Linked DNA regions of Homo sapiens. The protein of the gene in region 4 interacts with the protein of the main gene of each other region in a pairwise test. Each region holds a gene or a part of one and is shown on either strand. Other genes may lie near its edges.

What was found.
Region 1: the proteins of ARAF (region 4) and RRAS2 interact in binary tests that used the Homo sapiens proteins (3 or more experiments, as listed by UniProt).
Region 2: the proteins of ARAF (region 4) and TIMM50 interact in binary tests that used the Homo sapiens proteins (3 or more experiments, as listed by UniProt).
Region 3: the proteins of ARAF (region 4) and TIMM44 interact in binary tests that used the Homo sapiens proteins (3 or more experiments, as listed by UniProt).

Annotation. Positions count from the first base shown.
Region 1 is NC_000011.10:14,356,063-14,363,389, reverse strand, and holds the start of RRAS2 (ras-related protein R-Ras2), read left to right. Parts: upstream 1-4,206; 5' UTR 4,207-4,519; coding exon 4,520-4,627; intron 4,628-4,922; exon of another isoform or gene 4,923-5,152; intron 5,153-6,685; exon of another isoform or gene 6,686-6,704; intron 6,705-7,327. UniProt on the Homo sapiens protein: GTP-binding protein with GTPase activity, involved in the regulation of MAPK signaling pathway and thereby controlling multiple cellular processes. Regulates craniofacial development.
Region 2 is NC_000019.10:39,483,755-39,491,027, reverse strand, and holds part of TIMM50 (mitochondrial import inner membrane translocase subunit TIM50), read right to left. Parts: exon of another isoform or gene 6,238-7,273; intron 5,782-6,237; exon of another isoform or gene 5,652-5,781; intron 5,485-5,651; coding exon 5,426-5,484; intron 5,341-5,425; coding exon 5,221-5,340; intron 4,842-5,220; coding exon 4,737-4,841; intron 4,632-4,736; coding exon 4,533-4,631; intron 2,968-4,532; coding exon 2,811-2,967; intron 2,490-2,810; coding exon 2,383-2,489; intron 1,310-2,382; coding exon 1,208-1,309; 3' UTR 1-1,207. UniProt on the Homo sapiens protein: Essential component of the TIM23 complex, a complex that mediates the translocation of transit peptide-containing proteins across the mitochondrial inner membrane. Has some phosphatase activity in vitro; however such activity may not be relevant in vivo.
Region 3 is NC_000019.10:7,933,654-7,940,926, reverse strand, and holds part of TIMM44 (mitochondrial import inner membrane translocase subunit TIM44), read left to right. Parts: intron 1-2,729; coding exon 2,730-2,900; intron 2,901-5,781; coding exon 5,782-5,862; intron 5,863-6,688; coding exon 6,689-6,838; intron 6,839-6,923; coding exon 6,924-7,063; intron 7,064-7,273. UniProt on the Homo sapiens protein: Essential component of the PAM complex, a complex required for the translocation of transit peptide-containing proteins from the inner membrane into the mitochondrial matrix in an ATP-dependent manner.
Region 4 is NC_000023.11:47,557,091-47,564,388, reverse strand, and holds the start of ARAF (serine/threonine-protein kinase A-Raf), read right to left. Parts: upstream 3,185-7,298; 5' UTR 3,138-3,184; exon of another isoform or gene 2,950-3,137; intron 1,481-2,949; 5' UTR 1,422-1,480; coding exon 1,326-1,421; intron 1,164-1,325; coding exon 1,060-1,163; intron 1-1,059. UniProt on the Homo sapiens protein: Involved in the transduction of mitogenic signals from the cell membrane to the nucleus. May also regulate the TOR signaling cascade. Phosphorylates PFKFB2.

The DNA.
Region 1 (7,327 bases), on a different chromosome or scaffold from region 4:
TTAAAAGACACTACAGGCTGCCTTTTATGTTTGAATAGGAAAAAAATAAATAAATAAAATACACTACAGGGGATTTGGAAGCACATCCTTCGTGGAGAACATTGTCATAGTAGGATTTGCAAGCTCTTAAAGCCCACTAAAGCCAGGCAGGTAACAAATGGGTGGTGTGTGATAGAAGAGTGCTGGTGACCCTGATGAACAGGAGGATCTTAAGTTTTCTAAAACGCAGTCAGTATTTAGCTTTAGCTAGTTGTTGCCAGATAACGCCAGTCCAGTGTTGCTAGATATTCCACTTAATTTTTCCAAGAAGAGTTAGAAATACTGATTTATTTGTGACATACCCTATTTTTAAATATCGGCAACCAATTCAAAATTTACACAAAAAATTTGAATTGTAGGCCAAAACATATGCGCTGGCTAGATCTGGCTCTGAATCTGCCTGTTGAAATCTCTTGACAACACTTTAGCCAAACAAAAGCTTGATTTAAGTCAAAATGATGCAGTCAACAGCTCTCTTGACTGGCAGCATCACACTGCTTCTGCGATGTGAGGCTCTCCGGGGTTCTGGATAACACCCAGCTTGGCATGGAGCAAAGTGCTCTGAGCAGGGGAGTCAGGAGACCTGTTTCCTAATCCCTGCTAACAACTTGCTAGGTGACATTGGGAAAGAAATTCTCTCCCTTGTCACAGGATTTCTTTCTATAAAGTAAGGGGGATGATCTCTATTGTTCTTTCCAAGGTTCTAGATCATTCTTTTTCATGAAAATGTATGTACTTATTATCTGTCAGCTACTTGAAAAGGAAACTTTTCAGATTAAGTTGAAAATTCACCTTTAATTGGCTTGAGTGACAACTAGTTCTTCCTCTCCCATATTCTCCTGTGTCTTCAGTGATTTGTGTTTGCATGGAAGTTTCTTTCTGCTGTATGCTTTTGGGGGTATTTTCTAAGGGAAAGAGCTCATTTTGGCATAGAAAGTCTGGGCGGGGTTGAGCATATGGACTTCTCATTTGCTGAATACTACGTTTGAGTCAAATAAAAAAAATAAAGGAATAGAGTTAATATAGGGAACATTCTGAAGTATAAAGCCACTTCCTTGAACTTCACAGTTCAAATGAAACCTTGCAATTGAATCTTTTTTCCTTGTAGCTTCACTGAGACATAATACAGACACAATAAAATTCACCCATATAAAGCATACAATCCAATGTTTTTAGTATATTTACAGAGTTGTGCAATCAACACCACTATCTAATTTCAAAACATTTTCAACTCCTCAAAAAGAAACTCAATACCTACTATTGGTTGCTGTAATCCTGCAACCACAAATCTGCTTCCTGTATCTATAGATTTGCCTATTCTGGACCTTTTATATAAATGGAATTATATAATATGTGGTCTTTTGTGTCTGTCTTCTTTCATTTAGCATAATGTTTTCAAGGTTTATCCATGCTGTAGCATGTATCAGGACTTCATTCCTTTTTATTGCCAAATAATATTCTATTGCGTGGCTATACGACATTTTTTTGTTTATCCACTCATCAGCTGAGGGACAACTGAGTTGTTTCCACTTTTTGGCTATTATATATAACATTCACAAACAAGTTTTCATGTGAATATATGTCTTCATTTCTCTCAGGTACAGATAAGTAGGGGTGTAATTGTCAGGTTGTTGGTAACTCTACATTTAATCTTTTGAGGAACTGACACATACAGTTTTCCAAAGCAGTGGCATCATTTAACACACCTACCAGCAGTGTATGAGGGCTCCAGTTTCTTCACATCTTTGTCAACACTTACCTGTCTTTTTAATTTTAGTCATCCTCGTGTGTGTGAAGCAGTATTTCGATGTACTTTTTTTTGAGACAGGGTCTCGCTCTGTTGCCCAGGCTGGAGTGCGGTGGCCCCGAGCTCGGCTCACTGAAACCTCCGCCTCCCAGGTTCCAGCGATCCTCCTGCCTTGGCCTCCCAAAGTGCAGGGAATACAGACATGAGCCACAACAATTTTGTTTTGCTTATGATTTTGTGGGTCAAGTATTCAATAAGGGTCGGGAGTGATGGCTCATGCCTGTAATCCCAGTACATTTTTTTTTTTTGAGACGGCTCTGTCGCCCAGGCGGGAGTGCAGTGGTGTGATCTCGTGATCTCACGATCTTGGCTCACTGTAACTTCCGCTTCCAGCGTTCAAGCAATTCTCCCACCTCAGCCTCCGGAGTGGCTGGGACTATAGGCGTGTACCACGCCCAGCTAATTTTTGTAATTTTTTGTAGAGACGGGTTTTGGCATGTTGGCCAGGCTGGTCTGGAACTCCTGGGCTCAAGCGAGCAATCCGCCTCCCTCGGCCTCCCGAAGTGTTGGGATTACAGGCGTGAGCCACTACAATTTTATTTTGCTCATGATTTTGTGGGTCAAATATTCAAGAAGGGCCGGGAGTGATGGTTCATGCCTGTAATCCCAGCACTTTTTTTTTTTTTTTTTGAGCCCGCATTGTCGCCCAGGCGTGGGTGCAGTGGCGTGAACTTGGCTCACTGTCACTTCCGCGTCCCAGGCTCAAGTGATCCTCCCACCTCAGCCTCCGGAGTAGCGGAGAGTACAAGTGCACGCCACCACTCCGGACTAATTTTTGTATTTTTAGTAGAGATGCGTTTAGCCATGTTGGCCAGGTTGGTCTGGAACTCCTGGGCTCAAGCGATCCGCCCGCCTTGGCCTTCCAAAGTGCTGGGATTACAGGCATGAGCCATTGCGCCCAGCCATCCCAGCACTTTGGGAGTTCGAGACTAGCCTGGGTAACATAGAGAGACCTTGTCTCTTAAAAAAAAAAAAATTACCTGATCTTGATGGCATGTGCCTGTAGTCCCAGCTGCTAGGGAGGCTGAGGTGGAAGGATCACTTGAGTCCAGAAGTTGGAGGTTGCAGTGGGCCATGATTGTGCCACTACACTTCAGCCTGGGTGACAGAGGGATCTTGTCTCAAAAAAGAAAAAAAAAAGATTTTTAAAAAAGGAATTCAGGATGGGCTGGCCTGGATGGGTATTTTTGCTTGGGGTCTCTCACGCAGTTGCATTCAGATGCTAACAGGGGATGCCGTCATTGGAAGGCTCGATTAGGCTGAGTGTCCAAGATGTCTCACTTAGATGGCTGGCAGGTGATGCTGGTGATCTGGTGGGAGCTCAGTGGGACTTTTTTTTTTTTTTTTTAAATGGCATGTTGCTCCTGGCCATCAATCAGACTTCGACTGGCATGCCTACATGTAGCCTCTTTAGCATGGCAGTCTTATGATAGTCAAACTTCTGACTTTGTTCCTCCCGGAGTGAGAATACCAAGAGAACAGCTGCATGGCCTCTTCTGATCTAGCCTGGGAAATTAGGCAGCATCTCTTCTGCTGCATTCTACTGGTTCCAAATGAGTTACCAAGTGAAGTCCAAGAACTTGCAGTCATGTTCCAAGATTGCTGTAAATGCTTCCTGTGTAGCAGCACTGTTTTATGTGCTCATTTAATTCTTATTAAAAACCCCATGAGGCCGGGTGCAGTGACTCACACCTGTAATTCCAGCACTTTGGGAGGCCGAGGCGGGAGGATTGCTTGAGGCCAGGAGTTCAACCCCTCGCACTCACACTCCTCATATCCAATTACTGCACATTTGTCACACATAAACATAGCCACTATGACACTGTACTGACACATACAAAATCTGTCACATTCCGTCTTGCCCATGCAAGCTCAATCACTGACTTATTCTCCATGCTCAGCCACTGTCCCATTCTTCACACTGTCACAACCACCAGCCCATCACACACTCAATTACTGTGACACAGCTCTAATCCTCAATCACTGTCACATACTGTTTTTCACACAAATATGGTCACCATCTGTACTCTTAAAGCAGGGTATGTACTCTCCTATAAAATTGAGTTAATATGCCAACAGCCCTATTTTTCGCACACGCCGTCACATATTGTATTTTTCATCCACACAATCCCTTACATAGACAATTAGGGTGACACACTCTTTCTGCCTTCGTCCCACTCCCAACTGACACCCACTCCCACACTCTCACGCACTCGCTCACTGGCTAGGGATTAGAGCGGTGTGTCCGTGGGGGTCTGAAGCCCGGGTTACCTCCCGAACCTCAGCCCCAAGCGGCGCGGCCCCGCCCCTCCCCGCCCCCTCATGCATATGCAGCACCTCAGCCTGGCAGCCCGGCCCCCAGACGGCCATTTGTGGCGGCGCTGGAGGCTGCGTTCGGCAGGCGCTGCGGAGACGCGTAGAGGAGCGCGCCCCCCGGCCGCTGCCGCCCCTGGCCCGTGCCGTCACCCCGCTTCTCCGCGCCTCGGGCGGTACCCAGCCAGTCCCCAGCGCCGCGCTACCGCGCTGACCGGCCCTCCAGACGCCTCCCGGTACCCGGGACCCCAGCCCGGCCGCTCGCCCGCAGCCCGCCGGCCGCACACGTCCCCGGAGCCGGGCCTAGGGCGGGCGGCAGCGGCGGCTCGGCGCAGTCAGGCTGGGCTCTGTAGCGTCCCCATGGCCGCGGCCGGCTGGCGGGACGGCTCCGGCCAGGAGAAGTACCGGCTCGTGGTGGTCGGCGGGGGCGGCGTGGGCAAGTCGGCGCTCACCATCCAGTTCATCCAGGTACCTGGAGCGGGCCTGCCCGGGGCGCCGGAGCGGCGGCGGGCGGGGGCTGGCGCTACCTGTGGCGGGGCGGCCGCCGCGACCTCGCCCCAGAGGCGCCTCGCGGGCCCGGGCCGGGGCCAGGGGGCGGGAGGGCGCGGGGCCGACTACGCTCCTGCCCTGCGGCCGCAGCGTCGCGCTCCTGCCTCCTCCCGGGCGCGGCGTCGCGGGAGTAGGGCTTCTCAGGAATGTGGTCGGGAGGGCGGAGCTGGAAGGGTGGGAAGCACCGATCCACCTTATTGCTCTGGCCGAGGCCAGAGACCTCCGGGAGAGGCTGGGCCACCGAGCCGGGCTTTACTGCTCCGAGGGTCCGGGCGTGGGGCTGGAGCTGGAGCCCCGCGCGCTGCTTTTCCAGCCGCCTGCGGCCGCGCCTTCACCGTCGGGGCGATAGCGGTGGCAACTTGGCCGCGGCTCCGCGTGGTCTCCGGGCTTCCCCGCGCCGCCTGAGCCGGAGCTGCCCGCTTCAAGTACTGTGTATTTCTTTGTGTGTGTGTTACGCTCTTTTTATAAGTACTCTCTTAGGTAATATGTCCGGGTGGGAGTGTGTGATAATGCCCCGGGGAAATGGTGGCTTCTAGGAAGTTAAAAATGTTCTCTGATGGGGTGAGACCATTTCCTAGGAATTCCTGATGCCGTCCTGCTTCTCGCCGTGCCTAGGTGAAGTTTGGGATGGGCCGGGCTAGGATATGACCGAGTCGTGCGTTCTGTTTTCTAACCACCCTCTCCCCTACCCCCAGCCCTCTCTGGTTGCTAGAGACGGTAAGTCAGGGGTTTGTGGTAAAGAAAAGGGAGGTGGTATTCTTCCTTCTTAGAATTTGCTCTTGGGGAGAGGTTTGAGTAGTCTTTTTTGGGATTTTTAAAACACAAAGCCCCGATGTCTTTCTGCTTTTGTCAACCTAAAAGGTGTGGCATATGCTGGGAGAGAACGAAGGTACCCTGTTATAACAGGAAACAAGGATATTTTTCACAGTATCTAGAGTATGAACGGTGAAATATTTTTGTCTGGTTTCCTTTTCACCCATTTGTCATTAATTGGGATACCTGAATAGCTTATTTCACTTAGTGTTTATAGTGACATTAAAATATTGAGTACTGTAACAAATGTGATTGTCACCTTTCACATTGAGTAAATGAGCAATAATTGCTGCTATAATATTCCCTGGATTACTGCTGCTAAAACCTTTGAATCCAGGAAGAAAGGATGTTTTATGTAATGAGCATTTACAGTATGCTTATTAGTGGGTTAAAAAAATCACTGAGTAAGGGGTGAGATTGGTTTAAGTTTAGCAGGCTACAGAATCAGGGATGCTGTCAGGTTGCTATTTCCCTAGGGCGCAGAGAGATTGTACGTATCTAATGGCAAAGCAAAACAATTTATAGCTAACCCTTTGGGGACTAGTCTGATGGCTGAGGGAGGGTGGGGGTGAGGGGATAAGTGGAGGAGAAGTCTAGGAGTGGGAGAATAATCTTGGGTTACAATATTGGTAGTGTTATTTAAAAGATTTGAACCACAAATATTTACGTTTTTTTGAGGAAGGGGCCATCTGAATTATTTGAGCCCATGTTAATTAATTAAGGTGTTGGGCCTTTTTGTTTTGGGGAAGTAATGGTATTAAACCATTAAGAAAGCGGTAATTGGGCCTGGCGTCGTGGCTCACACCTGTAATCCCAGCACTTTGGGAGGCCGAGGCGGGTGAATCACGAGGTCAGGAGTTCCAGACCAGCCTGGCCAATATAGTGAAACCCCGTCTCTACTAAAAATACAAAAATTAGCCGGGCATGGTGGCGCGCGCCTGTAGTCCCAGCTACTCTGGAGGCTGAGGCAGTAGAATCGCTTGAACCCGGGAGGCGGAGATTGTAGTGAGCCGAGATTGTGCCTGGGCAACAGAGCGAGACTCTGCCTCAAAAAAAAAAAAAAAAAAGCATTAATTGCCGTTTTCCTAATAATTTATAGAATCATTTGTTGAAGAAATACCTCCACTGTGAATAGTATAGTACCTGGATGCTCTAGATGATATTAAAGAAGTAAAGGAAGCAGGTATGTATGAGGAAGACATATGTGTACATAAAGAGTATGAACCTTGAGTCTTACAGACTTGAGCATGTGTGTCTTTTAAAGCTCTGTCATTTATCGGCTGTGAGAACATGGCCAAAATACTCAGCCTCTCTGAGCCTCAGTTTTCTCGCCAGTAAAATGGGTCTGATTACACATTCTTTATAACTTTTATGACAAAGATGGTAGCATTGTATCCAGCATGTTGTATGTGCTCAGTAATGGTAGGTGTTATCAGTGTTTATGCCTACAGTTCTGTAACATGTTTAAATGCAAAGGGAATTCAGACTCAGAGAAGTCTGTGGAAAAAATTGATGAAAGCATTATGTAGGCTTGGTGGTGGGGAGAATGGAAATGTCATATGTGGGAGTCATATGCTAGTTTGGAGAGAGGAGGTGGCAAGTGGGGAAGTGGGATTGATAGTTGATTTGGGACCTGTGATCTGGTCTCTGCAAAAAGGAGCCTTTTTGGAGAGACAGGAACCCGACCACCTGGATGCAGTCTCAGCTCTACCACTTGCTGCATGTGTAATTTTAGGCAGGTTACTTAACTTCTCTGTACCTTAGTTTTCCCCATCTGTAAACTGGGGAAATATGGTGGACCACATA
Region 2 (7,273 bases), on a different chromosome or scaffold from region 4:
TTATTTTTTGAGATGGAGTTTCGCTGCTGTTGCCCAGGCTGGAGTGCAATGGTGCGATCTCGGCTCACCACAACCTCCGCCTCCCAGGTTCAAGCAATTCTCCTGCCTCAGCCTCCTGAGTAGCTGGGATCACAGGCATGCTCCACCACGCCCAGCTAATTTTGTATTTTTAGTAGAGATGGGGTTTCTCCATGTTGAGGCTGGTCTTGAACTCCTGACCTCAGGTGATCCACCCACCTCAGCCTCCCAAAGTGCTGGGATTACAGGCGTGAGCCACTGCGCCCCGCTAGGAGCCAACATTTTAAAATAGGGAGATTTAATATAAAAATCCCTATTTTAGCTGGGCACAGTAGCTCACACCTGGAATCCTAGCGCTTTGGGAGGCCAAAGCAGGAAGATTGCTTAAGACTAGGAGTTTGAGACCAGCTTGGGCACCAAGACCCCATCTCTACAAAAAAAAAATTTGTTTAAATTAGCTGGGTATGGTAGCACGCACCTGTAGTCCCCAGGAGGGTACTCAGGAGGCTGAGGCAGGAGGGTCACTTGGAGATCACTTGAGCCGGGAGGTCAAGGCTGTTGTAAGCTAAGATCACATCAATGCACTCCAGCCTGGGCAACAGTGAGACCCTGTCTCAAAAAAAAAAAAAAAATATTCCCAAGTTCTTGCTTCTTTTGAACAACTGGCGTGTCAAGCAACTCCAGGCCCCCTTTACCCCAGGGCCACACTGGCTGGAGCCAACCAGCAGCTGGCCTGTTGAGAGGGGTAATCTCTGGTCCACCAGAGGCCCACTAGGCCCATAACACATTCTCTCCACAGTAGCCTGGCAGCTACCTGTCTTTAAAGCCAAGTGCCATCCTCTCTTCCCTTCTCCACAGATGAGGAGTCTGTGGTCAGAGGGAGATGTATTTTTCACAGATCACGCAACACACAGGAAGACACAGCGAGGGTTTTTAGATTCCGAGACCAGGGTGAAAAATCTGCTCTGATCCAACAAAGCACCCCCACTGTGCTTGGCAGCCGATCAGCCACTGTGGGACGATGACCCAAGAGTCCCGGACCTCACCCTGATGCCCCCATCTGGAGACTCTCGGGACACAGCAGGTGTGGCGTCTGGGATGTACTTTATTGGACAAGTGGTGGCCCAAGTCTTGGTCTGGAAGCACTGGGGCCCTGGACCCAGGCACTGAGTTTGAGGAGGCCCAGAGTTCAGGGCTGTTTGGAGCGAGGCCACAAGCGGCTGGTGAGGGAGCCAAGGAAGAGGTTCTGCTTGTTGGACTTGGAGAGCTCGGCCAGGCGCTGCTGCTCCTCCTGGGGTAGGGGGACAGTTGGAGGAGAGGGTCAGCGCAAGGTGGACAGAGCCTCCTCCCAGATGCCCAGGTCCCCAGGCCTCAGCCCAGGGACCACCTTTCCTTCTGACTTCTGCCAAGTCCAGACCCCTTTCCCCAAACCCTGGGGCCCCCAGCCCAGACACAAGGGACCCTAGACCCCAGTCCCCCCACCCCAGACACTAGGAAGAGCCAGCTCTGAGCCGCAGGAGCCTAGGCTTCAATGTTTGGGGGACGACAGACTCCAATACTAGGCACTCGAGGTATTCAGGCCTGAACTGCAGTAGGTTCTCAGGCCCCAGACTGTCATAATCTCCTTCCCCAGATCCCAGGGACCCCTCCCCTGAGCCTGAGATCCTATCGCAGACCCTGTTACCCCAAGGTGAATGCTGGTGAGATCCCAGGTCCAAACCCCATGGCCCTCCTCACCAGACTGCATCATCCTGCCCCTGGGCCCTCTGAGCCCCATGACCCCTCTCTGGATGCAGGGGTGGGGGGTTCCCTGGGGGGTCCCCAGGCCCAAATCTCTAGGGACTTCTCTGGGCACTCAGGGGCTCCCAACTCTAGGAACCTAACCTAGAATCTGGTGAACCTCAGCCTAGACCCCTGGGAATCTTACCCAGACGCAATCCATACTCTCAGTCCCACTTCCAAATTACCAGGGTCCCACCAAGACTATCACATCTCTCCCCACAGCCTTGGGCCACGTGCCCAGGGAGCCTCTTTCCAGGCCTGATCTAAAACCCACAATCCACCTCCACAAGGTGCCCCCAGACCTACTCAAGACCATCAAGGGCAACCCCTCTCCCAGCCTAATCTCAAATCCTCTCCTGTTTCCTGTTCTCAGAGCAGGCTGCAGAATCAATGCATCCCCTCATTCTGGCAGCCCTACAGGACAGGCTGTGTTATATCCCCCTGGTTACAGAGACTGAGGCAGAGAGGAGGTATCTGCTCAGGGTCACACAGCCAAACCAAGAGTGTGGAGATGGACTGCCCCAGGCTCCTCCTTCAGGAGCCTCAGAGCCGATCCTCCACTCTGGGCATCTGAGCACCAACCTGCTCTAGCCGGCTTTGCCGCTGTTTGAAAGCCGCCAGCGGGTCATCCTCCAGGGCATAGTGCTCCAGCACGGTTCGCACGTCCTCCACACCATTCAGTGCAATGGCTGTGGGCACAACAGGGGGTGGTCAGCCAGGCTTCTAAAGGCCAGAGGGAGGCAGGGCCCATGAGGGGAACGTCCCGCACTGGGGCACGGGGGCAGTCAGTGCTACCTGGAATGCTTCTGAACGCTCTGAAAGGGCTCCCCTGAACATCCCCAAGTATCCCCCAAACATTCCATGAACATCCTAAGAAGCTCCTAAAGACTCCAAGGTGCTCAGGCACCTCTTGCACCTCAGTCGCCCAGCCATGAATCATGCATTTATCCTTCCTCTTCAGAGTCAGGGGCTCTGGGGTCAGAGGCCAAGGGATCAGGGGTCAGCCTTACTCTTGAGGAAGGCAGACAGATCCAACAAGACCCGGTCATCAGAGTTGCCGTCCCAGGGCCGCAGGGCAACGCCGTTATAGGGCTGCAGGCGGAAGGCTTCCTTCTTGCAGTCCACAACTACTACTCGAGCTGGGTCCCGATTCAGACATGAAATATCCTGGAAGTGAGTGACAGATCAGGTCAACATCTGTGCCCAACTCTCCCCCCATCAAGAAGACCCAAAACACACAAAACATACATACATACACAGCATCACACATACTGGGATCACAATGGCAGGGCCTCTCAAAGACCGGCTTTGGATGATGGCATCGACCCCCACAGAGGGCCAGGCATGGTGGCTCACGCCTGTAATCCCAGCACTTTGGGAGGCCGAGGCGGGCGGATCACCTGAGGTCAGGAGTTCAAGACCAGCCTGGCTAAAATGGTGAAACCCCGTATCTACTAAATACAAAAAATGGCCGGGTGCGGTGGCTCACGACCGTACTCCCAGAATTTTGGGAGGCCAAGGTGGGCAGATTGCCTGAGCTCAGGAGTTCAAAACCAGCCTGGGCAACATGGCGAAACTCTGTCTCTACTAAAAATACAAAAAATTAGCTGGGTGTGGTGGTGTGTGCTTGTAGTCCCAGCTACTCGGGAGGCTGAGGAAAGAGAATCGCTTGAACCTGGGAGGGGGAGGTTGCAGTGAACCAAGATCGCGCCACTGCACTCCAGCCTAGGCAACAGAGCGAGACTCCGTCTCACAAAAAAAATAAATAAATAAAAATAAAAATAAAAATTAGCCAGGCATGGTGGTGTGTGCCTATAGGCCCAGCTACTCAGGAGGCTGAGGTGGGAAGATCGCTTGAGCCCAGAAGGTTGAGACTGCAGTGAGCCATGTTCATCACACCACTGCACTCCAGCCTGGGTGACAGAGCAAAACCCTGTCTCAGAAACAAAAAACAAAACAACCCCCAGGATATTGGGGAGCTAATCACATAGACTTCTAGACCCAGGGCCTAGCACACAGAGAGGTGATTAGGAAGTTCCCTGGAGAGGGAGGTGGCCACTCTCGTGTTTAACCCCTGCCCAGGTGACTGTGGTATGTTGCAGGTTTAAGAACCTCTCACTCAAGTAAACAGGTGCAGACAGATCTGCAGCCACACCCAGGGAACCACACAGACAGGCACCCAGACACAGACCCTTCAAGACCCTCGATCACAGCCCACGTATTTTGGAATTTCCAAGAGCAACACAGAACCCCCACCCCGACACGACACAGACAGAAACCAACAGACACACAGACACTTGGAGCCAGACCCACAGAGGCCCATTCGCAGATCCGGACTCCTGAATACAGCACTGGCCACAGTAACAGAGCCCGGGTCAAACAAACCCCAACCAGTCTCATATGTACAACTATAAGCAAACCTTCCCAGAAACACTAAGTTACAGACACAGCAAGATAAAACCAGCTTCTAAATCGTACGACCTTACCACTAACCCCCAACTGTCTTCTTTAGAGAGACCCCATTTCCCCCCACTCCCACACCCAGATTCCAGGGAACAAAGAAGGGTGCAGATGTCTGGCCAAGGCTAGAGGCAGGCATGTGCCTGCCAGCAGGAATCGAATCTGGGCAGAACCATAAGCCAGGTGAGGCTAGGGTCAGAGCTGGGCCCTCCTTCCCTCAGGTGGTGCCAACTCCGCCAAATCCCAGAGGCCCACCCATGAACCCACGGCACCTTTACATGGTGTCCATCCATGTATCTTGTGGCGTCCCGGAATAGGCGGTAGGAGATGAAGCCATGGGGGTCCACACTATCAATGAGTGGAAACGCAGTCTGGGGGTGGGAAGGGAGCGAGAAAAGGTCAGGCTGAGCCCTGGTCCTCCAGATCTCTACGCCTCCCACCACACCAATATTCCCTCCCCTGCCCCAGAGCCTCACCATGCCAGTCTCTGACGTAAAGATGACAATTTCATATAAAGGGGCAAGCTGCTGGAACAAGGTCTCGATGCCTGGGCGCTTCTTAAACCTCCAGCCAGTGGCCAGCTGGGAAGACAGTGAGGACAGTGAAACACCAAGACCCAGAGGTCCTCAGAGTCCCCAAGAGGACAAAGATCCAGCCTGGGGGATTCCCAGAACAGAGTTCTCTCCCTCTGTCTCTGTGGCTCTTGGAGGTCAAGAAGTTCATAGGCTGTGACTGCGGGTCTGGCTCCTTTGTGGCACTTATAGCGTGCCTGGGCACACCTACACTACCCTACAGAGTGGGTGTTAGCATGACTGCCTTCTCCCAGCTGAAGAAAGCGAGGCAATGACAGGTGACATCTCCTCCCCAAGATCACATAGCACAGCCAGGGCTGAAAGTCCACCTCATCACAACCCCACTGCCCAGGTCTATCCCCAACCCACTGGGTTTCCCGGGACACACCGACCACTCAGGATGCAAGAGGACGCCGGTGAGCTCCAAAACGAGCGTGTAGGGTGGCTGGTAGTACGGTTCCTGCAGAGGGTCTGGGAGAAGGCAAGGGCTGGTGGGCTCGATGATCATCTGTGGGAGAGGGACAGGATGGGGGCGCTCAGACAAGGAGGCCAGGGCTGGAGACATGGGGACTGAGCCCAGGGCTTCTGCTCACCTGTCTATAATCTTTGAAATATTTGTATGTCCGGCGCAACTGCTGTACCAGAATTGGATCTAGGAGAACACCAGGCACAAAGAGATTCCACAATAAGCCGCTGTTCAACCTCCCAGACAAACCAGGGGTTTCTTATCTACCAGATACAAACAGGTCTGCATATCTGCCTGGTTTGAACCAACTCATTTCTAGGTCCAAAGATAGAAGGCAATGACATACCGCCAGATAGGAACACAGATTTATTTACTTGCCCTATTTTAAGCTGATACTTATATCCACATACTACCCCAGGTATGAAACAGAATGCTTATTACATTGGCCCACTTAAAACCCACATACAAGGCCGGGCACGGTGGCTCACGCCTGTAATCCCAGCACTTTGGGAGGCCGAGGCAGACGGATCACGAGGTCAGATCAAGACCATCCTGGCCAACATGGTGAAACTCTGTCTCTACTAAAACAGTAAAAAAAAAAAAAAATTAGCCGGGCGTGGTGGCATGTGCCTGTAGTCCCAGCTACCTGGGAGGCTGAGGCAAGAGAATCACTTGAACCCGGGAGGTGGAGGTTGCAGCGAGCCGAGATTGCACCACTGCACTCCAGCGTGGCAACAGAGTAAGACTCCGTCTCAGAAAAAAAAAAAACAAAACAAAACCCACATACATGTAAATCTGCTGACATTACACCAGGGTATACATACTTTTTTAATAGAGACAGGGTCTTGCTCTGTTGACCGGGCTGGTCTTGAACTCCTGGGCTCAAGTGATCCTCCCGCCTTGGCCTCCCAAAGTGTTGGGATTACAGGCGTGAGCCACCACACCTAATTTATGCCACTGTATTTTGCCCACTTTGAATCACTAGGCTTCCAGATCTGCCCACTTTAATCCAGTGTGCTGAATCTAAACCACAATAAATATATAAACACATCCATATACCATAAAACAGTGGTTCAGAACTAGGAACAATTTTGTCTATCTGCCTACCCCTGGGAAATCTGGCAATGCCGGGAGATATAACCGGTTATCGCAATACTGGCATCTAGTAGGCAGATGCCCAGGATGCTGCAAAAATCCTTCAATGCACAGGGCAGTCCTCTATAATTATCTGGTCCAAAGCGTCAATAGGGCCAAGGGTGAAAAACCCTGGTTTAAGTGAATATATTGACTCCAGTTTACTTTCTCATTTTAACTTATTTTTTTTTAGAGATGGAGACTCACTCTGTCATCCAGGCTAGAGTGCAGTGGCGGGATCACAGCTCACTGCAGCCTGTAACTTCCAGGCTCAAGTGATCCTCCCACCTCAGCCTCCTGAGTAGCTGGGACCACAGGCACAGGCCACCACTCCCGGCTAATGAATCCAGTATAAAACAGTAAACTTACAAGGCTACCTACTTTAATACAGTATTTTTAGTGCAATACATGGGCCTGCCTCTTAAAAAAAACACAATATATTGGGCCAGGAGTGGTGGCTCAAGCCTGTAATCCCAGCACTTTGGGAGGCTGAGGCGAGTGACCACCTGAAGTCAGGAGTTCGAGACCAGCCTGACCAACATGGTGAAACCCTGTCTCTACTAAAACTATAAAAATTAGCTGAGTGTGGTGGTGTGCGCCTGTACTCCCAGCTACTCGGGAGGCTGAGGCACGAGAAATGCTTGAACCCAGGAGGTGGAGGTTGCAGTGAGCCAAAATTGCATCACTGCACTCCAGCCTAGGCAACAGAGCAAGACTATGTCTCAAAAAAAAATAAAAATAAAAATAAACCACAATATTGAAACCAGTTAGGCTAGTAAACATATACACTTTAAAACTGCAGATGTACCTGCCCAATTTAAATCAGCATACTGATTTGTTG
Region 3 (7,273 bases), on a different chromosome or scaffold from region 4:
CCAGAAACACTTGACCTGCCTCTTGCTTGATGTCGTAAGGGGATAAGGTGCTGTCAGAATAGCCCTTTATGTTGGCTCTAATGCTTGGAAGAGACCCCTGTATTGAACTGAATTCTACTTCCCTGTGACCTCTGCCCGTGGGTACCTCACCAAGCATAGCTGTTTCCTTTTCTAGAAGATAGCCCTTTGATCATTGGTACAGAGTCACCTTGTCACAACCAGACCTCAGTTTCTCCTGGTCATTCCTCTTCAACTGTGCTTCTGTTGGTGTCTCAGCATCGTGAGGACAGAAGCCCAAAACCTGACTCCCTTCCCCAGACCTGTACATTCGGGCAGCGCGTACATTCTGTCTCCCTCTCTCTCTGCGCCCAGAGCCTCAGCTCAGCTGCCTCCTTGGAGGCAGCTACCTACCTCTCCAGTCCTGTCCTGGGGCCATCGTGGGTGTGGGACAGGACCTGTGACTCTTTCCCTTTCTTGTCTAGTCCCCCGCCACACACTCACTCCCATGGTTTGTAGCCCAAGAGTCTCTGGTAGGGCTGCGATAAGGTTGTGTGGTCCTGGATGATTTTACTTAGAACCTGGGTTTCCCCTGGAGAAAGGCTGGCCAGGGTGGCATCTGAATGGGACTGCAGCCTGCTGACAGGAGGCCTGGCCACCTGTCCTGGGGAGCAGCACTGGGCTTTTTTTTTTTTTTAAGATAGGGTCTCACTCTGTGGCCCAGGCTGGGGTGCAGTGGCACTATCACGGCTCACTGCAGCCTTGAACTCCTGGGCTTAAGCGATCCTCCCACCTCAGCCTTCTGAGTAGCTGGGACCACAGGTGTGTGACTCCACGGGGCCTGAGCACCAGGCTGGATGCAGCTTTCTCTTGTAGCTTGACAGGAGCCAGGGAGGGGGATCCCACCTGGAGCTGGTATACCCAACACAGCTGTGGAAAAGTTGACCACAGGCGGCCCCTTCCGCCTGATTGGATTATTGTATGATCATTCATTAAACTGTTTCTCTGTTGTTTTTTTGAAACAGAGTCTCACTCTGTCGCCCAGGCTGGAGTGCAGGGGCGAGATACCGCTCACTGCAACCTCCACCTCCCGAGTTCAAGCAGTTCTCCTGCCTCTGCCTCAGTAGCTGGGACTACAGGCAGGCGCCGCCACACCTGGCTAATTTTTGTATTTTTAGTAGAGACAAGGTTTCACCATGTTGGCCAGGCTTGTCTCGGACTCCTGGCCTCAAGTGATCCGCCCACCTCGGTCTCCCAAAGTGCTAGGATTACAGATATGAGCCACTGTGTCCAGCCTGCTTTTTTTTTTTTTTTTTTGAGATGGAGTCTCATTCCATCACCCAGGCTGGAGTGCAGTGGCACAATCTTGGCTCACTGCAACCTCCGGCTCCTGGGTTCAAGTGATTCTCCTGCCTCAGCCTCCTGAGTAGCTGGCATTACAGGCACCCACCACCACGCCCAGCTAATTTTTGTATTTTTAGTAGAGACGGGGGTTTCACTATGTTGGTCAGGCTGGTCTGGAACTCCTGACCTCAAGTGATCCACCCACCTTGGCCTCCCAAAGTGCTGAGATTACAGGCAGGAGCCACTGCGCCCGGCCTTGTTTTGCTTTCACAAGGCTTTATCTTTTGAGCAGTTTTAGGTTTACAGAAAAATCCAACAGAATGTCCAAAGAGTTGCCATGCCCCTCCTCTCCCATCTGGCACACAGTTTTCTATTCTTCACGTCCTGCATTAGTGTGGAGCATCTGTCACAATTGACAGGATGTTGATACATTATTATTAATAAATGCATGGTTTACCTTCCGGTTCCCTCTTGGTGGTGTACATTCTCTGTGATTACAGTATCATAAGAGTAGTTTCACTGCCCTAACATTTTTCTGTGTTCCCCCCTACTCATCTCACCCTCTTCCTACCAAACCCCTGGCAACCACTGATCTTTTACTGTCCCCTTAGTTTTGCCTTTTCCAGAACGGTCTATAGTTGGAATCAGACAGTATGTAGCCTTTTCAGATTGGCTTCTTTCACTTAGTGCAATATACATTTAAGGTTCCTCTGTGTCTTTTCACAGCTTGAGAGCATATTTCTTGCTTGTTTTTTAAATTATTTTATTTTATTTTATTTGAGATGGAGTCTCGCTCTGTCACCCAGACTGGAGTGCTGTGGCATAATCTTGGCTCACTGCAGCCTCTTCCTCCTGGGTTCAAGCAATTCTTGTGCCTCAGCCTTCTGAGGAGCTGGGACTAAAGGCACACACCACCATGCGCAGCTAACTTTTGCATTTTTAGTAGAGATGAGGTTTCACCATTTTGGCCAGGCTGGTCTCGAACTCCTGACCTCAGGTGATCTGCCCGCCTCAGCCTCCCAAAGTACTGGGATTACAGGCGTGAACCACCGCGCCCAGCCTGTTTTTTAAATAGGGTGCTGTGTTGCCCAGGTTGGTCTTAAAACTCATGACCTCAAGCAATCCTCCCTCCTCAGCCTCCTAAAGTGGCTGAGAGCTCATTTTTTTTTCAGCACTGAATAATATTCTGTTGTCTGGATATACCACACTTTTATCACCTGCTGTTTCTTTGTTTTTTATGATTATTATAAAAGAGATAGCTAATCATCATTAAATGTATATCAACCGAAAAGAGAACATTTAAAAAAATCCCTGAGTCCCTCTGTGGGGCATTTCATTCTATGTTCTACTATGTTCTTTAAATTTTTTTTCTTGTACATTCTTTCTAGTCCAAATCATATTCTTCTGGAAACAGAAAAGGCTTTCTGTCCGGCTTGCTAGATAATGTCAAACAAGAATTAGCCAAAAACAAAGAAATGAAAGAAAGTATAAAAAAATTCCGTGACGAGGCCAGAAGGCTAGAAGAATCAGACGTGCTCCAGGAGGCCAGAAGGAAATACGTGAGTTTCTTTGCTGCTTTTTTTTCCCTCACCCAGGCTGGAGAGTAGTGGTGCGATCTCGGCTCACTGCAACCTCCACCTCCCAGGTTCAAGTGATTCCCCTGCCTCAGCCTCCTGAGTAGCTGGGCTTACAGGCGCGCACCACCACGCCCAGCTAATTTTTGTATTTTTAGTAGTGAAGAGGTTTCACCATGTTGGCCAGGCTGGTCTCGAACTCCTGACCTCAAGTGATCCGCCCGCCTCAGCCTTCCAAAGTGCTGGGATTACAGGCGTGAGCCACCGCGTTGGGCCCCTTTGCTTCTTACCTTTCTTGGTTGACATGTTTGTTTCCAGGGCCAGGGTTTCTCCAGGCCAGGGACAGCCAGAGGAGCTCAGGGCTGGACGGTTGGGGGCAGGGTGGCTCGTGAGGAAGTGAGGTCACTGCTCTGATGCACTAATGAGAGGGAGCCAGGGGACAGGTGCGGGTCTCCAGGCCTCTGGGTTCTGCCATGAGACCATGCAGCGTTCTGTGCAGCTTGAAGCGTGGTCCCCAGACCAGCAGCAGTGGCTCCTCCTGGGAGTGGATGAGCAGTGCAGAGGCTCACACCCTCCCAAACTGCCAGGCCAGCGCCCGCATCTTCACAGGCCCCCAGGCAACGCATGCACACCAGCTATGGGATGCAGCGCTCCTGAGAGCTCCCAGCTGTAGCCCTCTGAGTGGAGCCTGGTGGAAACTGGGTGATGGTGCTGGTATTTTATTTTATTTTATTTTATTTTATGAGATGGAGTCTTGCTCTGTCATCCAGGCTGGAGTGCAGTGGCGTGACCTTGGCTCACTGCAACCTCCAGCTCCTGATTCTCCTGCCTCAGCCTCCCGGATAGCTGGGATTACAGGCGCCCGCCACCACACCCAGCTGATTTGTTGTTGTTGTTGTTGTTGTTTTTTGAAGCAGAGTCTTACTCCATTGCCCAGGCTGGAGTGCAGTGGTACGATTTTGGCTCAACACAACCTCTGCCTCCTAGGCTCAAGCGATTCTCCTGCCTCAGCCTCCCGAGTAGCTGGGATTACAGACACACACCACTACTGCCCAGCTAATTTTTGTATTTTTAGTAAAGACAGGGTTTCACCATGTTGGCCAGGCTGGCCTTGAACTCCTGACCTCAAATGATCCACCTGCCTTGGCCTTCCAAAGTGCTGAGATTACAGGTGTGAGCCAGTGCGCCCAGCCCTATATATCTTTTTATAGAGACGGGGTTTCACCATGTTGGCCAGGCTGGTCTCAAACTCCTGGCCTCAAGTGATCTGCCCGTCTCAGCTTCCCAAAGTGCTGGGATTACAGGTGTGAGCCACTGCTCCCAGCCTGTCATTATTAATTGTCACTTCTCTTCTTGAGCAGCTGCCAAGCCCTGGCTTCTGGGAATGGCTCTGCATTCCTTTATTTGTAAGGGCCCTGCGAGGCAGTTACAGTGTCCCCATTTTACCAATGAGCAGCTGAGCCTCAGAGATGCAGGCACCTGCCACGGGTCCCTTGCATTTTGGTTTGGTTTGGTTTCATTTGTGTTTTTTTGTTTGTTCGTTTTTTGTTTTTCTCCTTTGAGATGGAGTCTTGCTCTGTCAGCCAGGCTGGAGTGCAATGGTGCGATCTCGGCTCACTGCAACCTCCGCCTCCCTGGGTTCAAGCGATTCTCCTGCCTCAGCCTTCCAAATAGCTGGAATTATAGGCGCCCACCACCACGCCAGGCTAATTTTTGTATTTTTAGTGGAGACGGGGTTTCATCACTTTGGCCAGGCTGGTGTTGAACTCCTGACCTCAGGTGATCCATCCGCCTTGGCCTCCCAGAGTGCTGGGATTACAGGCATGAGCCACCGTGCCCAGCCTAGTTTGGTTTTTTGAGACAGGGTCTTGCTCTGTCACCCTGGCTGGAGTGCAGTGGTGTGATCACAGCTCACTGCAGTTTTGACCTTCCCATGTTCAGGTGATTCTCCCACCTCAGCCTCCTGAGTAGCTGTGACTAAAGGCATGGGATACCACGCCTGGCTAATTTTTTTATATTTCTAGAGACAGGGTCTCGCCATGTTGCCTGTGCTGGTCTCGAACTCTCTGGGCTCAAGCGATCCTCCCATCTCAGCTTCCCAAAGAGCTGGGACTACAGCTCACATGCCCAGCCCCTCTTTATCATTAATGCAGGGGTCATCTGAAGACATAGCAGGCTGAGTTTGGAGTGGGATGGATGGAGCGGGAGACATAAGACCAAGCTGTGGTGGCTGGAGGCTGGATGAGGGGCACAGTGATGACAGGCAAGGCCACCTCCTACCACCCGGTGAAAGGTGAAGGCTGGGCCTCCTGTTCTCAGGAGGTAGCTGCCAAGCGGGGACCCGAGTCTGCCGGCCTTCTGAGCAAGGAGCTCACCGCTGCTGAGACCCTCAATCCAAGCCATGTGGGCAGCCGGGGGCCCTGGAGGCAGCACATGCTGGCAGGTGCGGGGAGGGAGGGGCTGCGGAGAAGATGCTTCTTGGACCTTTGGCTGTAAGAGAAATGTCACTGCCGTGTCAGAACATACAGACTTAAAGACACAACGGTTGGCCAGGCACAGTGGCTCACACCTATAATCCCAGCACTTTGGGAGGCCGAGGCGGGTGGATCACTTGAGGTCAGAAGTTTGAGACCAGCCTGGCCAACGTGGTAAAACCCTGTCTCTACTGAAAATACAAAAATTAGCCAGGCATGGTGGTGGGCCCTGTAGTCCCAGCTACTCGGGAGGCTGGGGCAGGAAAATCGCTTGAATCTGGCAGGAGGAAGTTGCAGTGAGCCGAGAGCGTGCCACTGTACTCCAGCCTCGGCAACGGAGACATTGTCTCAAAAAAAAAAAAAAAAAAAAGGACACAGCGCTCTTTACCTAGAAAACCATCGAGTCAGAAACCGTGCGGACGAGCGAGGTGCTACGGAAGAAGCTTGGGGAGCTGACGGGCACCGTGAAGGAGGTAACAGTTCCACGCCCGCCTGGAGCCGCTGGGGCCATCAAAGTCCCCTGGCCGCTGGAGGCTGGAGGAAGAGTCGGCTCCTGGGTGGGGGTGGCTTGGCAGCAGTGGGTGGCATGGGGCGTGCTGCCACCCTCGGGAAGGTTTCAGGAGTTCCCGGCACATGCAGGGTGAGGTCAGACTGGCAACCTTGCATGACCGTTGACCCAGGGAGTCGGCAGCAGTAAGTGCTGCTAGCCAGGACTCGAGGAGAACATGAAAATGTTTTTCCTGCCTAAAAATAGGAGGAGAGGGGCCGCTTCCACCCCCTCCCGAGGGTAGAGGCGGGAGGCAGGATTCCTGGGGTGCTGCGGCTCTCCTCGGTTGTCTGTTCTGTCCAGCTTTGCGCAGCATGGGGCGCCCTCACCGCCGTTCTTTCCCCGGGGTCCCCTCCTTGGGAATCCTTGCTGCCAGGCAGTTCCCGGGTCTCCAGAGGACTCCTGCCCATTTTGGAAAGGGGCCAGCAGACCCAGCGTCTCACCCAGAGCCCAGGGCCAGCATCCCGGAAGCCGTGGCGGTGTGCTCATGGCTCTGGGGGTGCCGGTGTGCTCATGGCTCTGGGGGTGCCGGTGTGCTCGTGGCTCTGGGGGTGGCGGTGTGCTCGTGGCTCTGGGGGTGCCGTTGTGCTCATGGCTCTGGGGGTGCCGCGTACCACAGGAGCACAGAAGGCCTCTGCCGGCCTCGGGGAACCAGATCCGCCCTTCTCTCCGGCAGGAATTCATTCCTCCTGCCCCGCCCCCCGGCCGCCAGGGCCGGTGCCAACGCCCCCTCTCTGTGTCTGTCTCAGTAGAGCCTTCACGAAGTCAGTAAAAGTGATCTCGGCCGGAAAATCAAGGAGGGCGTGGAGGAAGCAGCCAAGACGGCCAAGCAGTCGGCCGAGTCGGTATCCAAAGGCGGGGAGAAGCTGGGCAGGACAGCGGCCTTCAGAGCCCTCTCCCAGGTGAGCCCAGTCCTGGGCTAGGGCATGCAGCCTGGGGCGGCCGAACCCAGACACCCACCCCAGCCCCGCTGTGCCTCCCTCGCAGGGGGTGGAGTCCGTGAAGAAGGAAATTGACGACAGCGTCCTGGGACAGACCGGGCCCTACCGGAGGCCCCAGCGACTCCGGAAGAGAACGGAGTTTGCGGGAGATAAGTTCAAGGAGGAGAAAGTGTTTGAGCCAAACGAGTAGGTACCAGCCCGTGGCCCTCGCTGCCCCCATTTTGGGCAGCTTTCACTGCTGTCCATTTCGGGAGCCCACCAATGGTTCCCTCCTGAGTCCGTTTCTTGAGTTTGCCTTCTGCCCAAGGTTCCCGGCTCCCTCGAATTTGAGGGTGAGAGGTGAGGGCGGGGTCCTCAGAGCCCCTAGGTTTGAGGTCTCAGCTGCCTGCTGTCCTG
Region 4 (7,298 bases):
GGAATAAATAAAGTCAGCAAGACCCAACTCAGCAGACAGAGAATGGGGAAAATGAGGAAGAAGAGACCTGATGAAGTCATGACATCGTGAAAGGACAAAATAGATGAAATCTGGGCAGAAGTGATGGACCAGGGTGAGGACTTGGGGGCCAGGGGAGAATGAGTTGCTGACCTTACAGGCCAATAAACCAATGAAGTAACAAAACAAAAGATGGATGAACTCATAGATTACTTGAACTACAGTAGTCCTCCCTTATCTGTGGTTTCACTCTCCATGGTTTCAGTTACCTGTGGTCAACCGGGTGGGAAAGTATTAAATTGAAAATTGCAGAAATAAACAATTCATAAGTTTTAAATTACGTGCATTCTGAGTAGCGTGATGAAATCCTGCACCATCCCACCCAGGATGTGAATCACCTCTTTATCTAGCAGATCCACACTGTCTACGCTACCGCCCATCACTTAGTAGCCTGCTCAGTTATCAAACAACTGACTCAATATCATAGTGGCTGTCTTCAAGTGACCGCCATTTTACTTAATAATGGCCCAAAAGCACAAGAGTAGTGTTGGTGGCAATTCGGACATGCCAAAGAGAAGCTGTAATGTGCTTCCTTTAAGCAAAAAGGTAAAAGTTCTTGACTTAAAAGAAAATCATATGCTGAGGTTGCTGAGATCTACTGTAAGAAAGAATCTTCCATCTTTGGAATTGTGAAGAAGGAAAAATAAATTCATGCTAGTTTTGATGTCATACCTCAAACTGCAAAAGTGATGGCCGGAGTGCATGATACGTGCTTAGTTAAGACGGAAAAGGCATTACATTTATGGGTAGAAGACAAGAATAGAAACATGTTCCGACTGATAGCAATTGGGTTCGGTACTATCTATGGTTTCAAGCATCCACTGGGGGTCTTGGAACATGTACCCTGCAGATAAGGGGGGACTAAAGACTAAGGGAAGACTAATGGAAGACTCTGTGATAAAGTACAGAAGGAATCAAATGACTGAGGAGGGGATGGGAGGTGGGACACCCAGTGGGTGGGCGTGGGGCTGCCACACTCACCCCTTGATGAGTCGGTAGACCACACAGCAGTCCTGATTTAGACCCCGCACCTTCAGGGCCTTGTCTAGAGAGTCGTAGACACTCATGCCATCCCGGACAGTCACCTGTGTGTATGTGCAGATGTAGGGGTCCTCAATGCCCAACAGAAGCGCAGCTGATGTTCCCATCCTTCTGCAAAGGCCTCCCCCAACCGTTGTCACCCTTTTGATCCCAGAGTTACAACTGGGTCCATCCACAGCCCCTGCCATTTCGCTTCCATGACTCACCACCGTGCGTTGCTTGTTGGGCAGGTATACTTTGACGGTGCCCACTGCCCGGGATGGCTCGGCCCCATTGGCAGGGGGGCCCCGTGGTGGCTCCATGGAGCCTTAGATTTTGTCAAGATGGGCTGAGGTGGGGCTGGGCAGGTGCCATGGGGCTCCTACAAGAAGGCAGACAAGAATTCAGAGGTCCAATAATGATAGTCTAGAAGCAAAGTGGCAGGGGACAAAATAAAATTCAAAGTCCAGGCTCCTGTCGCCCCCTGCAGCCTAATTTTCACACGACAGTCCAAGAGATCCTGCTCACATCTGAAGTCCTTCCAGTTCCTTCTCTGCTCAGGCCCTCCTGTTGCTTGTCTCACTCTTGAGTGCCAAGGTCTCAGCTTCACTGCACAGGGTTGCGGGGGAGAGAACAGGGAAGGGGGACAGAGCATACTGTCTTGGAGGGTAGAGGAGCACACAAGACTCTGTGCTGGGGACCAATGGGGAAGTCAGTACACACTGCACTGAGCCGTCAGGTACATAAGAAGCACGAACAGAATGTCCTGGGTTTTTTTTTTTTTTTTTTCTGTTTTTTTTTTTTTCTGACAGAGTTTCGCTCTTGTTGCCCAGGCTGGAGTGCAATGGCATGGTCTCAGCTCACTGCAACCTCCACCTCCCAAGTTGAAGCCATTCTCCCGCCTCAGCCTCCTGAGTAGCTGGAACTACAGGCGTGTGCCACCACGCCCGGCTAATTTTTTGTATTTTTAGTAGAGACGGGGTTTCACCATGTTGGCCAGGCTGGTCTCGAACTCCTGACCTCAGATGATCCACCCGCCTCAGCCTCCCAAAGTGTCCTGGTTTTTTAACAGAGAACGGGGGAAATGCCAGTTACTGTGGTGAGGGAGGAGTCGCAGGCACGGTGATGGGAAAGAGAGGATTATCAGATACTGCCCTTAGTTTGGGGAAGATGGAGGTTGCACCAAACATGTCCTTAAAGGGCACTGTGGACATCCCTAAGCCCTGGGGTGTAATGTTGATGTTAGGACCACAGACACCGTTGTTAGGTGGCTAATGGAAGTCCCAAGCCTCTATGATGAGGAATTCATGGGGGGGGGGGGTCACTACATACTATGCGGAAGGGAGATGTAACAGGCGTCACTAGGGACTGTAATGGGGAGAAGGGTGGAAATGGAAATGACCAGACATTGAGCCGAACTGGGGAGGTAATGGTGGACCACCAGACATTGTCATAGCAAAAGGAGAAGGAAGGTATGGTGTTGCGGGGAGAAAAATGGAGGTAAAGAGGGAGCTCCAAAATTCTCCTTGACAACCTGTGAGGGGTCACAGGCATATTACTGGTCTAAACTGAATGAGGGATCATGGAAGGCGGTTACAGAGGCGAGAATCCTGACATTCTCCCGGCGGGGGCGGTCAGACACTGATCCAGAATAAGGAAACCGGGGAGTGAACCGCGTTTCCACACACTCCCCGCAGTTGGTAAGGAAAGGTCATTGGACACCTTAGCGGGGGTTAAGACGGAATCCCGGCACCACTCGGTCGGGTCCCGCCTACCAAAGGGCTTCCGGCTCTGCGCAGGCGCACCACCACTAGCAGCGGGCGAAACCATCACCCGCAGCCTTGCCCGCCTATTCCTGTTACCCACCCCACCCCCGCTGTCGACGATGGTCTCGCCCCGGGTCAAACCACTCCTCCGGTTCCGGGCAGGGAACGCCGGGGCCCAGGCGCAGCCATCCTGGAGCTGAGCTTTCGGTCCGGGCTCCCTGCCCGTGCCCGGCAGCCGCTCCAGAAACCGAGCCCTCCCGGGCCCGCCCTCACCTGTCACGCCGCTACAGCCGCCGCCGTCTCCATCTTGGGCCTCTCTTCTTGTTTCCTCACAGAGTCCGCCTCCGTCGCCTCTCGGACTCTCGTTATTGGCTCTGCGGGACTCAGCCTTCCACCCTTATTGGGTCAGGGTCACGTCTGTCAAGGCAAGACCAACGGAATGTGAGTCGTGTTCCGGATTAGGAGGGGCCGCCTGAAACGTCAAGATCTGGGGCAAGCGCTCGTCCTGACTCGCGCAGGCGCAGTTGAGGCAAGACCTGCGTGCCTAGGGCTTTAACCCCAACAGTGGCATAGACGTATAAAGCAGAACACAGGTCATTTGGGGCTGACCTTAGGGCTTTGGCATCTGGGCGGAGAAATCCTTAAGTACCCTTTTTGGGCCAGTGCCCTAAGCACCCTTTTATGATTTTCCCGTGTCTCAGTTTTTACCATCTTTGAAATGGGTTGGAATCAGAACCAATGATCGGCGATGTTCACCAGCTCTAGGAGACTGTAGTTCATAGCCTTTGAGGACAGCGGGTCTCTGGTGTGGCGGGGGCTGGGGGACTGGGCCTAGGAGGGGCGGCCTGCTGTCTGGGAGGCTTCCTTTAGGAATGGGGTTGATTAGGACTATGAAAAACTAGTCACAGGTGGCCAGGTGAAGAGGGAAGTGCGGACCTGGAAGGGAGCACGATGCCAGTCAATGTGTGGAGGTATTGTGGGGTAAACACAAATTTTTAAAGATCGAATTTTCCCTGGTGTCAAAAGAGAAAGACGTCTCTCTTAGAGCATTTCCTTTAGAAAACTTGTAACTGTAAAATTTTCTCTGTCCCTTTGAGATGTATGTAAGTCCTTTTAAAAGCTAAATCTCTTGCCAGTTTTACATCCCCGGAATGTTTTTCTTAAGAGCCTTGTAGCCATCTCTTTGAAATGTAAACATCAATGAAAATAGCACCCCTGTCTTTCCCTGTCTTCGTGGGAATTTGATCTGCGTGCCTGGCTTCAAGTTATTACCTGCTTGTCATAGAGATATGAGTTTTCGTTTTCCTTTGGATAAAGGCAATTAACTAACACAGATAGCCACCCTAATTACCAGGTGAATTTGGGATGAAGTATGTGTACCAAATGGTGCCGTCAAGTTTCTTGAGCACAAGTTATTGTTTGAGAATATGTTTGTAATGGGCTGTATCTGCCTGCTACATAAACGGATGAGATTTCTTTCTGTCTTTGAAACCTCTTTAGCAGATTGTTTGTGATGTGCATCACAGTCTGGTGTAATGCTTATTCAGTTATAAAACTTTCCATTCCTGCCGGGTGCGGTGACTGATGCCTGTAATCCCAGCACTTTGGGAGGCCAAGGCGGGCGGATCACTTGAGGCCAGGAGTTCGAGACCAGCCTGGCCAACATGGCAAAACCCCGTCTTTACTAAAAATGCAAAAAAAAAAAGTCAGCTGGGCGCGGTGGCGCGCGCCTGTAATCCCAGCTACCTAGAATGCTGAGGCAGGAGAATCACTTGAACCCAGGAGACAGAGATTGCAGTGAGCTGAGATCACGCCACTTGCCACTTGCACTCCAGCCTGGGTGACAGAGTGACCCTGTCTCAATAAAACAAAAAACAAAAAAAAACTTTTCATTCTTGTCTACTTTGTGGAGAGGATTCATTGGGTTGGCACGAGATTCTCTTTTTAATTATTTCCCCAACACCATGAATGGCCTGTTGTGTTTCAAGTGACTGCATTCTCCTGTTTGGAGATTTAGCATCCTTTGGCAATGTAATGGGAAAGATCAGAGGAAGGTCATAGGTGAGGGGGGGCCTCAACATATTTCAATCTGTATTTATCACATGGCTTTCTCTGTCTATAAGAAGGAAGACAGAAGTTCTGCCTACTGGCCTCCCATATAATTTCCATTTCCCAACTCCCCTTTTCTTTTCTTTTCTTTTCTTTCTTTTTTTTTTTTTTTTTTTTTTTTGAGACAGAGCCTTGCTCTGTCACCCAGGCTGGAGTACAGTGGCAAGATCTTGGCTCACTGCAACCTCCGCCTCCTGGGTTCAAGTGATTCTCCTGCCTCAGCCTCCTGAGTAGCTGGGACTACAGGCGCCCACGACCATGCCTGGCTAATTTTTATATTTTTAGTAGAGACGGGATTTCACTATGTTGGCCAGGCTGCTCTGAAACTCCTGACCTCAAGTGATCTGCCCACCTCGGCCTCCCAAAGTGCTGGGATTACAGGCTTGAGCCACCACACCTGGCCCCAACTCCACTTTTCTATTCGGATCTTCACCATTTAATGGCTAAAAAAATTTTTTTTTTTTTTTTAGAGACAGGATCTCACTATGTTGCCCAGGCTGGTGTCGAGCTCCTGGCCTCGTTCTCCCAACACTCTAGGATTACAGGCATGAGCCACCATGCCCAACTCCAATGGATAAAATTAAAAAGACTGACAATACTATGTATTGATGATAATGTAGAGCAATTGGAACTTTCATACATTGCTATTGGGAGTGTAAAGTGGCACAAGCACTTTAGAAACAGTTTGGCAGTTTCATATAAAATTAAACATAGACCTGCCATGCAATCAATCCAGCAATCTCACTCCTAGGTATTTACTCTAGAGAAATGAAAACACATGTCCAATGGTGTGCTGGTAAATGTTTGACAACCAACGCTCCAGGAAGAAAACAGCTCTAATTTGTACTGTCCCCATGGCTTATTTCAGGCTACCAATATGACAGTCGCTGAACCAGATTTAAAAGAGATGCACAAAATCCGCTCTGGTGAGCCAGCTACAACATGCTACTATTACAATATGTCTGCACAAAAACTTGTATGCAAATGTTCAGATTAGCTTTTTCTTAATAGCAAAAAACTGGAAACAGCCCAGGTGTCCAGAAACAGAACTGACAAAAAAATACAACAATGGGATTATGGAATACTACTCAGCAATGAAAGGGAATAAATTACTGACATATAGGAAGAGCATAGATGAATCTCGTAGACATGGGGCAAAATGAAAAAAGCCAGACACAAAAGAGAAATACTGTATTCCACCCATATGAAATCTAAACCAGGCAAAACTAATCTATAGTGAAGGAAATCACATTAGATGTTGTTTTGAGGGAGAATGACTGAGAAGTGCATTAAAGAACTTTTGCAGGTGATTGGAATGTTCTGTATGCATTTGTCAGAACTCATTGAACTCTATTTTTATTATTATCTTTTTTTATTTTTGAGACAGAGTCTGGCTCTGTCACCCAGACTGGAGTGCAGTGGCACGGTCATGGCTCACTGCGCCTTGACCTCCTGGGCTTAAGTAATTCTCCCACCTCGGCCTCCCAAGTAGCTGGGATTACAGGCATGCACCACCACACTCAGCTAATTTTTAAAATTTTCTGTGTAGATGGAGTCTCACTATGTTGCCCAGGCTGTTCTTAAACTCCTGGGCTCAAGTGATCCTCCCACCTCGGCCTCCCAAAGTGCTGGGATTACAGGCATGAGCCACCTTGCCCAGCCTCATTGAACTCTACACTGAAAATGGATATATTTTGCTTTATGTGTAATATACCAGAATAAGAACTGCATGGCAAAAAAAAAAAAAAAGAAGAAGGCCACAAACATAATTCTAAACATTTGTTTCTTAGAAATTCTTATTGGTTAGAGAAATTATTTTGAAAAAATTCTTTTTTCTGAAATTAAATCCCTAGACCCTGAATCTCCATCTCCCACTGCAGGAGCCCTGGCAAACACCTCAGTGCCAGTGGGGTCAGGAACAACTCCTGTTTGGAGCTCAGTGAGGGGCTTTGGGGAGGGGAATAGGGGAGTGCATTTTACATTTCAATTCACTTAAATATTTAATTTGTTTAAAAACTTTAATTTCTAGGCAGTATTTGAAGACAGACCTCTGGCTCCATCGTTCAACGTTTACAAAAAGATGAGAAAAATGCCAGCAAAAGCTCATTGCTTTTGCAGGATGGGGGAAGGAGGGGAAGGGTAGGGGACATAGCCCACTCAAAGGCAATGCTTTCTCCCCCAAGGACTCATAGACTCACTTCACACCCATCTCAACTGGCACTTCAGCCAAGTACCTTACAGGTACCTGACACTTTAAAGCATGAAGTCCTTTAAAGTGATTTAGGTTTGGTTTTCTTTTGTTTTGCGACAGAGTCTCGCTCTGTC